Linked DNA regions of Homo sapiens: region 1 is linked to region 2. The links come from fine-mapping of genetic effects on gene expression. A gene starts in region 2. The other region holds a variant in brackets. All regions are shown on one strand. Distances are from middle to middle.

Region 1 (4,000 bases), 38 kb before region 2:
GGCTGAGGCAGGAGAATGGCGTGAATCTGGGAGGCGGAGCTTGCAGTGAGCCGAGATAGCGCCACTGCACTCCAGCCTGGGCGACAGAGCGAGACTCCGTCTCAAAAAAAAAAAAAAAAAAAAAAAGAAAGAAAGAAAGAAAATACTGATTAGAAAGAAAATACAGTGTATTTGCTCACTCCTGTAATCCCAGCACTTTGGGAGGCCAAGGCAGATGGATCACGAGGTCAGGAGATCGAAACACAGTGAAACCCCGTCTCTACTAAAAATACAAAAAATTAGCTGGGCATGGTGTCACGCACCTACAGTCCCAGCCTGGGGAGGCTGAGGCAGGAGAATCTCTTGAATCCGGGAGGTGGAGGTTGCAGTGAGCCGAGATCATGCCACTGCACTCCAGCCTGGGTCACAGAGCAAGACTCTGTCTCAAAAAAAAAAAAAAAAAAAAAAGACTAAAATCTAGCCTATGTAGAAATAGTGATTCTTGCTGTACTTTATGCAAATAATCTGTTTTGCAAACAACTCAGTCCTATCATGATTGTTTTTTAACAAAAATGAGGACTGGAGAGAGAAATTATATTTCAAAACTCATCATACATTTGTCATTAAATTCTAAACTCATTAGTTGTTTTTTTTGTTTATATTTTTAGACTACCCCTGCTTGTTCCTGTGAACCAACCAATCAATCAACCAACCAAGCAATCTCCAGCTGCAGCTCAGAAAGAACAAAAGGGATGGGTAATGTAAAAATCTGGATCAATATTCTAGTTCTGAGCAATTATCCTGCAAATCCTGCCAGGTGATGGAAATAAACAGGATACTCATCACGCAGAGGTTTCCTTTCTGGGAAAGGAAGACCAAGGGAGCTAACCAAAGCCAAGCACCATGCACCCAAATCTTAGCAAGCATAACTATAGCCACCAGTTATTTGGGCATGTCACAAGACATGCTTTTCTCTCCCTTGTTGGAGGAGGATTCAATTCCACACCTTCACCTCAGCATTTGGCTTCTGATAAGGAGTCCATGTACCCCTACCAAGACACATTTTTTCCCAAACTCAATTCCAAGCTTCAGGTCAAAGCCCTAGGAAAGAAAACTGGATCTAAGGAATCCAGAGGCAGACAACAACAGAGGTTAAAAGACAGTGCAGGTAAGCAGGGCTAATTCCTGCCAATAAAGCCAAGCCTCCCATTTCATGGATAAGGGTCATGCTAGTATCCATGGCATAAATGAGGTCTAGGGAACTCCAAGGCTACTGATAGTAGGTGGGATAGAGACATAGGTGAGAGCAGCTAATTCCTATTATCTAGGCCCTCCCTGCTTCATGGGTGCAAGCTACTTTGGCACCTATGGATGGCACCTGCTAAGTTCACTGGGACTTGATGATTCAAGGACAGAAGAGGGAAAGAGGACACTCTTCCTTCTCTCCTTCACATACCCCAGGTATTGCTAGGAAGAGAAGGGAACCAGGGATGCCTGCTCCCGTCTTTCTAGATGGGTAGCCATTCATCTTCAATCTATACCCCTTTTGAATGCATCCTGAACCCCTGGGACTCCTTTTTTAAAAAAGCCTCCTTGGCTGGGCGCGGTGCCTGGACGCCTGTAATCCCAGCACTTTGGGAGGCCAAGGCGGGCAGATCACGAGGTCAAAAGATCAAGACCATCCTGGCCAACATAGTGAGACCCCATCTCTATTAAACATATAAAAATTAGCTGGGTGTGGTGGCGTGTGCCTGTAGTCCCAACTACTCTGGAAGCTGAGGCGGGAGAATCGCTTAAACCTGGGAGGCTTGCAGTGAAAGCCTTCTTTTTTCCTCCTCTTTCCTCTCTTCACTGATAGGTAATTTTGTCTCTGTACTCAGGACACTCCTGTCAGATGCATCCTCCAAACTGGGAAAAGTTAATTTCCCAAACCTTAGACTGGTTGGCTTAGGATTGGGCTCAGGGGAAGGGAACCCAGAAGCTTGATATGCTGGCAAAAGGGTAAAAGTTTTTTTTACAGTCGGGCTTTTGGCCTCCCTCTCCCTGTGCAAACTGGTAAAAGGCCTTGGGATTTTTGATGTGTCCTTACCCATCCCTTTTTTCTCGTTTTGATACGTGTTTTCTAATAACCTGGTTTGTCTCTTCTCACCTTCAGGCTATCAAACTCCAAATGGTCATGCAACTGGAGCTTTGGAGGATGGCCCTTTCTGCCGGGTACCCTTAGCTAGCTAGACCTCTGAGGGAGCTCCA[A/C]TGCCATTCCCCCAGAACAGCGCCCCCTGTCAGCAGGAAGCAGTTAAGATCGGTCTTCGTCCTTATCCTTATCCTTATTTTAACAGCAGTTAGATGTACTTCTGCAGAGGGGGGAATGAGACAGCCAGGTGTAAAAGGGTCCCTGGAGAAACTCCAACTGGGCTGCATACTGGGTGAATGAGGTGAATCCTTGGGAAGTTCCTGCCATTTGCAGGGAGGAAGAGTCTGGATTCTCCTATTCCGGGGTTGGTAACCTGGATTTAATTTGTGAGCCCACTGGCAGGAAGTACACTCTCTCGCTTTGCTGAAAGTCCCTGTTTCCCCACCTTTTTTCCTTTTCACCCAATAAACCCTGCCCTTCTCGCCCTTCAAAGTGTCTGCAAGCCTAATTTTTCATGGTCGTGTGACAAGGACCCTGTTTTTAGCTGAACTAAGGAGAAAGTCCTACAACAAAAATGGTCCCTCAGCCATATACTTGAGTTGCTCCCTTAGGGGGCCTCAGTTACTTCCCGATGGTACATTACATACCTGGGGGTTTATTACCTCTGTAATCAGGATCATTCTTTAATGTGGAAGGAAATAGCACACAGAACTCCTGAAAAAATTAGATCCTTAACACAAGACAAATTATCTTTAAACATTTTTTTCATGTGTGTATGTGTGTTTTCAAAAAGTTTTTGTCGGGGAATGGAGGAGTAGATGACTTTTTTTTTTGGAAGTTGTAGAGTCGTAAAGCCAGAAAGAGAGAAAAACTATGGAAAGAGCAGCTCCACTTAGGTGAGTGTGTTTTTAAAATTATAATGTAAATGGTAATTATTATGGAAGATAACCAGAATTTGCCAAGCCTACATTGGGGGTAGAGATGGAGAGAGGGTGCTTTCAGCCAAATAGTATCCTGCTCATTGCCAAGGAGTCATGTAACACTATGGTAAGTTCAGTGAGCTGAGGATACTCTATTCTGGTTGTAGGATAGCATGCATATATGGGCACTTTGCAGTAGAGGTGTTTGCAGACTTTGGGCTTTTCACTTCTGCCATCTGTGCTTGGGCCAATGGAATTGAGTGAGATATACAATCTACAAACAGGCTACCCTGGAACATTTACCCCAATCTTTGACACAAAGGTAGTGTTTTGTTTTGTATTGTGTTTTGTTTTGTTTTACTTTCTAATATTCTGAAATATCTTAGAATAGTTCTTAGTTTTCTTTTGTCCCAGGCTTTACAAGGTTGGAAGGGGCCTATTCCCATCTTTACTCTGGAGGTCTCATCTTCTAATGCTGGGCATTGGGTAGATGCTTATGGGTCTGGGCAGCATCCTTGTTCTCAAGCAGTAAGAGGATTCCAAAGGCCATTTTAGGTGTTATTCAGCAGGCACTGACTTGCAAGATGCCAAGAGCCCACAAGAGAAAGCAAGATGACCTGAAGAAATGGATGTTCCTTCATTCTCCACTTGCCTGAAGACAAACTGAGATTTAGGTGAAGCTCACATCTATTTCTGCTAATAACAATCCCACTGCTAATTATGGGATGTGGTAGTTATAGTGATAAGAGAGGAGCTATATTCAGAGGGGTTTAGAAAAGGTTGCAATGTACAGAGGGGTTTTTAATTTGTATTAATATTTCTCAGTTTACTTCCTCCATTTAGATTTAAGATTTACTCATTAATTCAATAAACATTTATTGAGTGTCTGCTATGTACCAGGCACTGTTCTATTGGCTGGGGATAACAGCAATGAACACCACAAACAAAACCCTTGCTCTCATGGAGTTTG
Region 2 (4,505 bases):
TGATAAAGATTGTGTTGAAGCCCAGATGCGGTGTGATTCATTCCTGTAATCCCAGCACTTTGGCAGGCTTAGGCGGGTGAATCACCTGAGGTCAGGAGTTAAAGACCAGCCTGGCCAACATGATAAAACCCCGTCTCTACTAAAAATACAAAAAATTAGCCAGGCGTGGTGGCAGACGACTGTAATTCAGTTACTTGGGAGGCTGAGGCAGGAGAACGGCTTGAACCCAGGCAGCGGAGGTTGCAGTGAGCCGAGATCACGTCATTGCACTCCAGCCTGGGCAACAAGAGCGAAACTCCATCTCAAAATAAATAAATAAACAAATAAATAAAGATTGTGTTGAATATGTAGATCAATTTGGAGAGTATTGCCATCTTACCAATATTAAGTTCTCCAATTCATGAACATGGGAAGTCTTTTCATGTAGTGAAGTCTTCTTTAACTTCTTTAAACAATTTTTGTGGTCATCAGAATATGAGTTTCACACTTTTTTTGTAAAATTTATTCTTAAGTAGTTCATTTTTGATACTATTATAAAGTTTCTTTCATAATTTCATTTTTGGTTTGCTCACTGCTACTGTATAGAAATAGAACTTTTTTTTTGTATTTATCCTGCATTTGTTATGGAGCTCATTTATTAGTTCTAATAGTTTCGTAGTTGATTCCATACGATTTTCTGTATACAAGATCATGTCTTCTGTGAATACAGATCATTTTACTTCTTTCTTTCCAAGCTTGATATCTTCTACTTTTGTTTCTTGTGTAATTGCCATAGCTAGAACTTCCAGTACAATGTTGAACAGAAATGGCAAAAGTGGACATCCTTGTCTTATTCCTGATGTTAGGGATGAAGCAGTCAGTCTTTCACCATTAAATATAGTAGCTTTGGGTTTTCAATATCTTCTATCAGGTTGATAAAGTTTCCTTCCATTCTTAGTTTGTCACACATTTTTATCACAAAGCCTGTTGAATTTTGTCAAATGCTTTTACTAGATTAGAATGATCATGTGATCTTTGTCTTTTATTCTGTTGATGTGATTGTTACATTGATTTATGGGTGGTAAACCAATCTTACATTTCTGGGTAAAATCCAAATATTTCTTTTTTTTTCCTTTTCTCTGACAGGGAATTGAACCTGGGCTGTGGCAGTGAGAGTGCTGAATTCTAACCACTAGACAAGCAGGGACCAAATACATATTTCTTAAATTGAATTTATCATGAGCACATTATATGAGGATTGGGTAAAAAGTAACTAAAAAAATGGCCAAAGAAACAAGATGGAAAATAACTTCCATTTTCAGATAGTAACTATTTAGGAAACATTGAAACTTTGGAAGTGAAATTGTTATTGTGTAAATATTTTAAAAAAGCATGTTTATACATCTTTCACACTCTTTGAGTCTTATATTTTTCCTTTAAAGTCTTGGAACTAGACCTTTATGATATTCTAAATTTAATAACACTTAACAACTTGCCCTAAATATCCCTACTTTATAACAATTACTGTAGTGGTTTCCTCATAGATTTGTTTTTTCCCCATCCCCCACACCCTTCCCAAGTACACACCCTTCCCAAGTATTATCCCAAGTGAGACTATCATTATCATCTATTATTCTTATTGGACATTTTAAAGTACCTGTACAAAAATGGCATTAGTTAGGGATATAGTAAAGTTACTTCTAGTCTTTTAATTGGCTTCTGCCCTTGGCGCTGTTTGAGCAAAGAGAAGAGACCCTCATAGAGAACTCTAAGGACAAAAAAACTTACTTTTAATTGTGACCCCAAGAATTATCAATATCTCTATTAACAGAGACAAGGGCTTCATCTTCTCTTAAGCAGCTTCTCTTCACTGTAACACAGGCAGAAACTAGGTGATTGGCCCAAGAGCTCCTCTTCTCAGGGACTGTGGTGGGGGCAGGAGTCAGTTGCTAAGCAACCATTTCCTTACTCTTGGGCCAATGGGCTGCCAGAGTGTTCCTTTCAAGCCGGAATGAAGGCAGCTGCTGGAGAATGTAGGCTGTGGAAAGGATCCACTGCTATTCCTCTGGCTGAAGATAAGGGGTAGGCTAGAAATTAGGGGTGGCTCTCTAACATGAAAGGAAGGGACCAGAAGTCCGACTCGTACGTGTCCACACGTTCAACTGTGTTCAGGGGTGCTGGAAGTTCTTATTTTTATGTTGCCTCTAGAGGTACAAACTACACTTATGTAAAAACACAATTAAGGTACATGAACTGATCTGACATCATCCTGTAAGCTGGTATCTCTAGGCTATGGCGGAAAAGAAACAATGGGCCAAGTCTGCTTTGTTCCCAATCTGGATGAAAATCTTTATCCTCTTTTCCAGTTAGAAACTGCTGAGGATTTACTGGAACAAAGGCAAACAAAGACTGTTTAACAATGTCTTTACATACCTCAGATAATACAGACATCTCACAAGTGGTACCTTCAAAGCTACGAGAAATCAAAATGAATATTTAGGGAAAACATATAAATATTAAAAATATCCAAGGCACAGAGCTAGTTGAGAAATTATGCCTACAAAAAATATCCAACTTTTACAGTCTGTCCAGGTCATTACTTTAGAAATAGACATTTTATTGTTTTGAATTTACAGTTTTATTCCTTTTATTAGTTTCCCATTGCTGTGATAACAAATTACCACAAACGTAATGGGTTAAAACAACAGGAATTTATTCTCTCATAGTTCTAGAGACCAGAATTCCAAAACCATTCTTACAGGGCTAAAATCAAAGACAAGGCTAGCTCCTCCTGGAGGCTCCAGGGAAGAATCCATTCTTGGCCTGGAATTTTTCAGCTTCTAAGTGGCTGCCAGCATTCCTTGATTTGTGACCACATCATTTCAGTCTCTGCTCAGTCATCACTTGCCTTCTGTAGTTTAATCTCCCTTTGTGCCCCTCTTATAAAGATACTTGTGATTACATTTAGGGCCCACCAACATGATCCAGAACAATCTCTCTCTCTCTCAAGATCCTTAATGTTGGCTGGGCGTGGCAGCTCACACTTGTAATCCCAGCACTTTGGGAGCCTAAGGCAGTTGGATTACTTGAGGCCAGGAGTTCGAGACCAGGCTGACCACCATGGCGAAACCCCGTGTCTACTAAAAATACAAAAATTAGCTGGACGTGGTGGTATGCGCCTGTAGTTTCAGGTACTCAGGAGGCTGAGGCATGAGAAGTGCTTGAATCCTGGGGCCAGGGGCCTGAGGGGTGGAGGTTGCAGTGAGCAGAGATTGTGCCACTGCAATGCAGCCTGAGCGACAGAGTGAGACTCCATCTCAAAACAACAACAACAAACCCAAACTTCTTTATAGGAAAATCAATGAGCAATGAAGGCATATAAGGGGAAGCGGCAAACAAAGGTCAGGTAGGGTCAGAGTCAGGGAAGGCTTTGCTAGGGAGTGATGTTCAAGCTGAAATATGAAGAACGAGAGTGAGTCAGCTAAACAAATCATGTCCCAGGTGTTGCAATGAACATGTTAAGAGGCTATGTGGGCTGGGTGCCGTGGTTCATGCCTGTAATCCCAGTACTTTGGGAGGCTGAGGCAGGTGGGTCATCTGAGGTCAGGAGTTCAAGACCAGCCTGGCCAACATGGTGAAATCCCGTCTCTACTAAAAATACAAAAATTAGCCGGGCATGGTGGTAGATGCCTGTCATCTCAGCTACTCGGGAGGCTGAGGCAGGAGAATTGCTTGAACCTGGGAGGCAGAGGTTGCAGTGAGCCAAGATCGCGCCATTGCATTCCAGCCTGGGCAACAAGGGTGAAACTCCGTCTCAAAAAAGAAAAAGGCTATATGGTGTTCCAGAACATGAAATGATGCTCTGTGGGCTGGAATCAGAGACTGGGGAATGGGGGTGGTATGGAGCATAGTATAAAATAAGGCTGGGTTAGTAGGTGATAGTCACTCCATTCTTAATAATTTAATTGTTATAAAAAGACTGTATTAGCCTGTATGCAACAAAATAATATAGACTGGGTGACTTTACACAGCAGAAATTAATTTTCTCAGTTCTGATGGCTAGAAATCTGAGACCAGGTTCTGGTGAGGGTCTTCTTCCTGCTTGCAAGATGGCTACCTTCTTGCTGTGTCCTCATATAGCAGGGAAAGGGGGTGGGAGGAGAGGATGAAAGAGATCTCCCTCTTCTTATAAGGCCTCAGTCCTATTAACCTCACTCACCCTTATGACCTCATTTAAACTTAATTACTTCGTAAAGACCTAATCTCCACATTTAGTCACATTGGAGATTAGGGCTTCAACATATGAATTTTGGGTGCACGTAAGTCAGTCCATAGTAAAGACCACCAGAAAGTCATTGAATGACTTACAGAAGTGAGAAGACGTGATCACTTCTGACAAGGTATCACTAGATGCAGTCTAGACAATGGACAGAAGAGGGGCAACAGTGGGCATGAAGGCCACTTAGGAAGTCTTTGCAATAGTCCAGCTAAATTCAGACTAAGTTTACTGCAATGCTGTTGGAAAG

Direction of the effects. Positions count from the first base shown, and alleles are read on the strand shown. Sizes are in standard deviations (SD) of each study's normalised expression.
With allele C in place of A in region 1, the expression in left ventricle of the gene that starts at base 1,905 in region 2 is higher (large effect, 0.78 SD a copy in GTEx).

The links. PIP is the estimated chance that this variant, and not a neighbour inherited with it, causes the effect.
Region 1: its variant is the best candidate, but not a certain one, in a credible set for the expression of SEL1L2 in left ventricle (GTEx, PIP 0.59).

What each region holds. Positions count from the first base shown.
Region 1 is chr20:13,951,174-13,955,173 of GRCh38, forward strand. The region is part of intron 2 of SEL1L2 (SEL1L2 adaptor subunit of SYVN1 ubiquitin ligase); the gene reads right to left. Among named protein-coding and RNA genes, the nearest start is that of SEL1L2, 37 kb to the right of the region's middle. The variant A/C (reference allele first, on the strand shown) is at 2,230.
Region 2 is chr20:13,988,710-13,993,214 of GRCh38, forward strand. SEL1L2 (SEL1L2 adaptor subunit of SYVN1 ubiquitin ligase) reads right to left here and starts at 1,905. Exons shown (of 20, transcript NM_025229.2): 1 at 1,768-1,905. The coding sequence starts at 1,825. It also overlaps the pseudogene TRE-CTC10-1.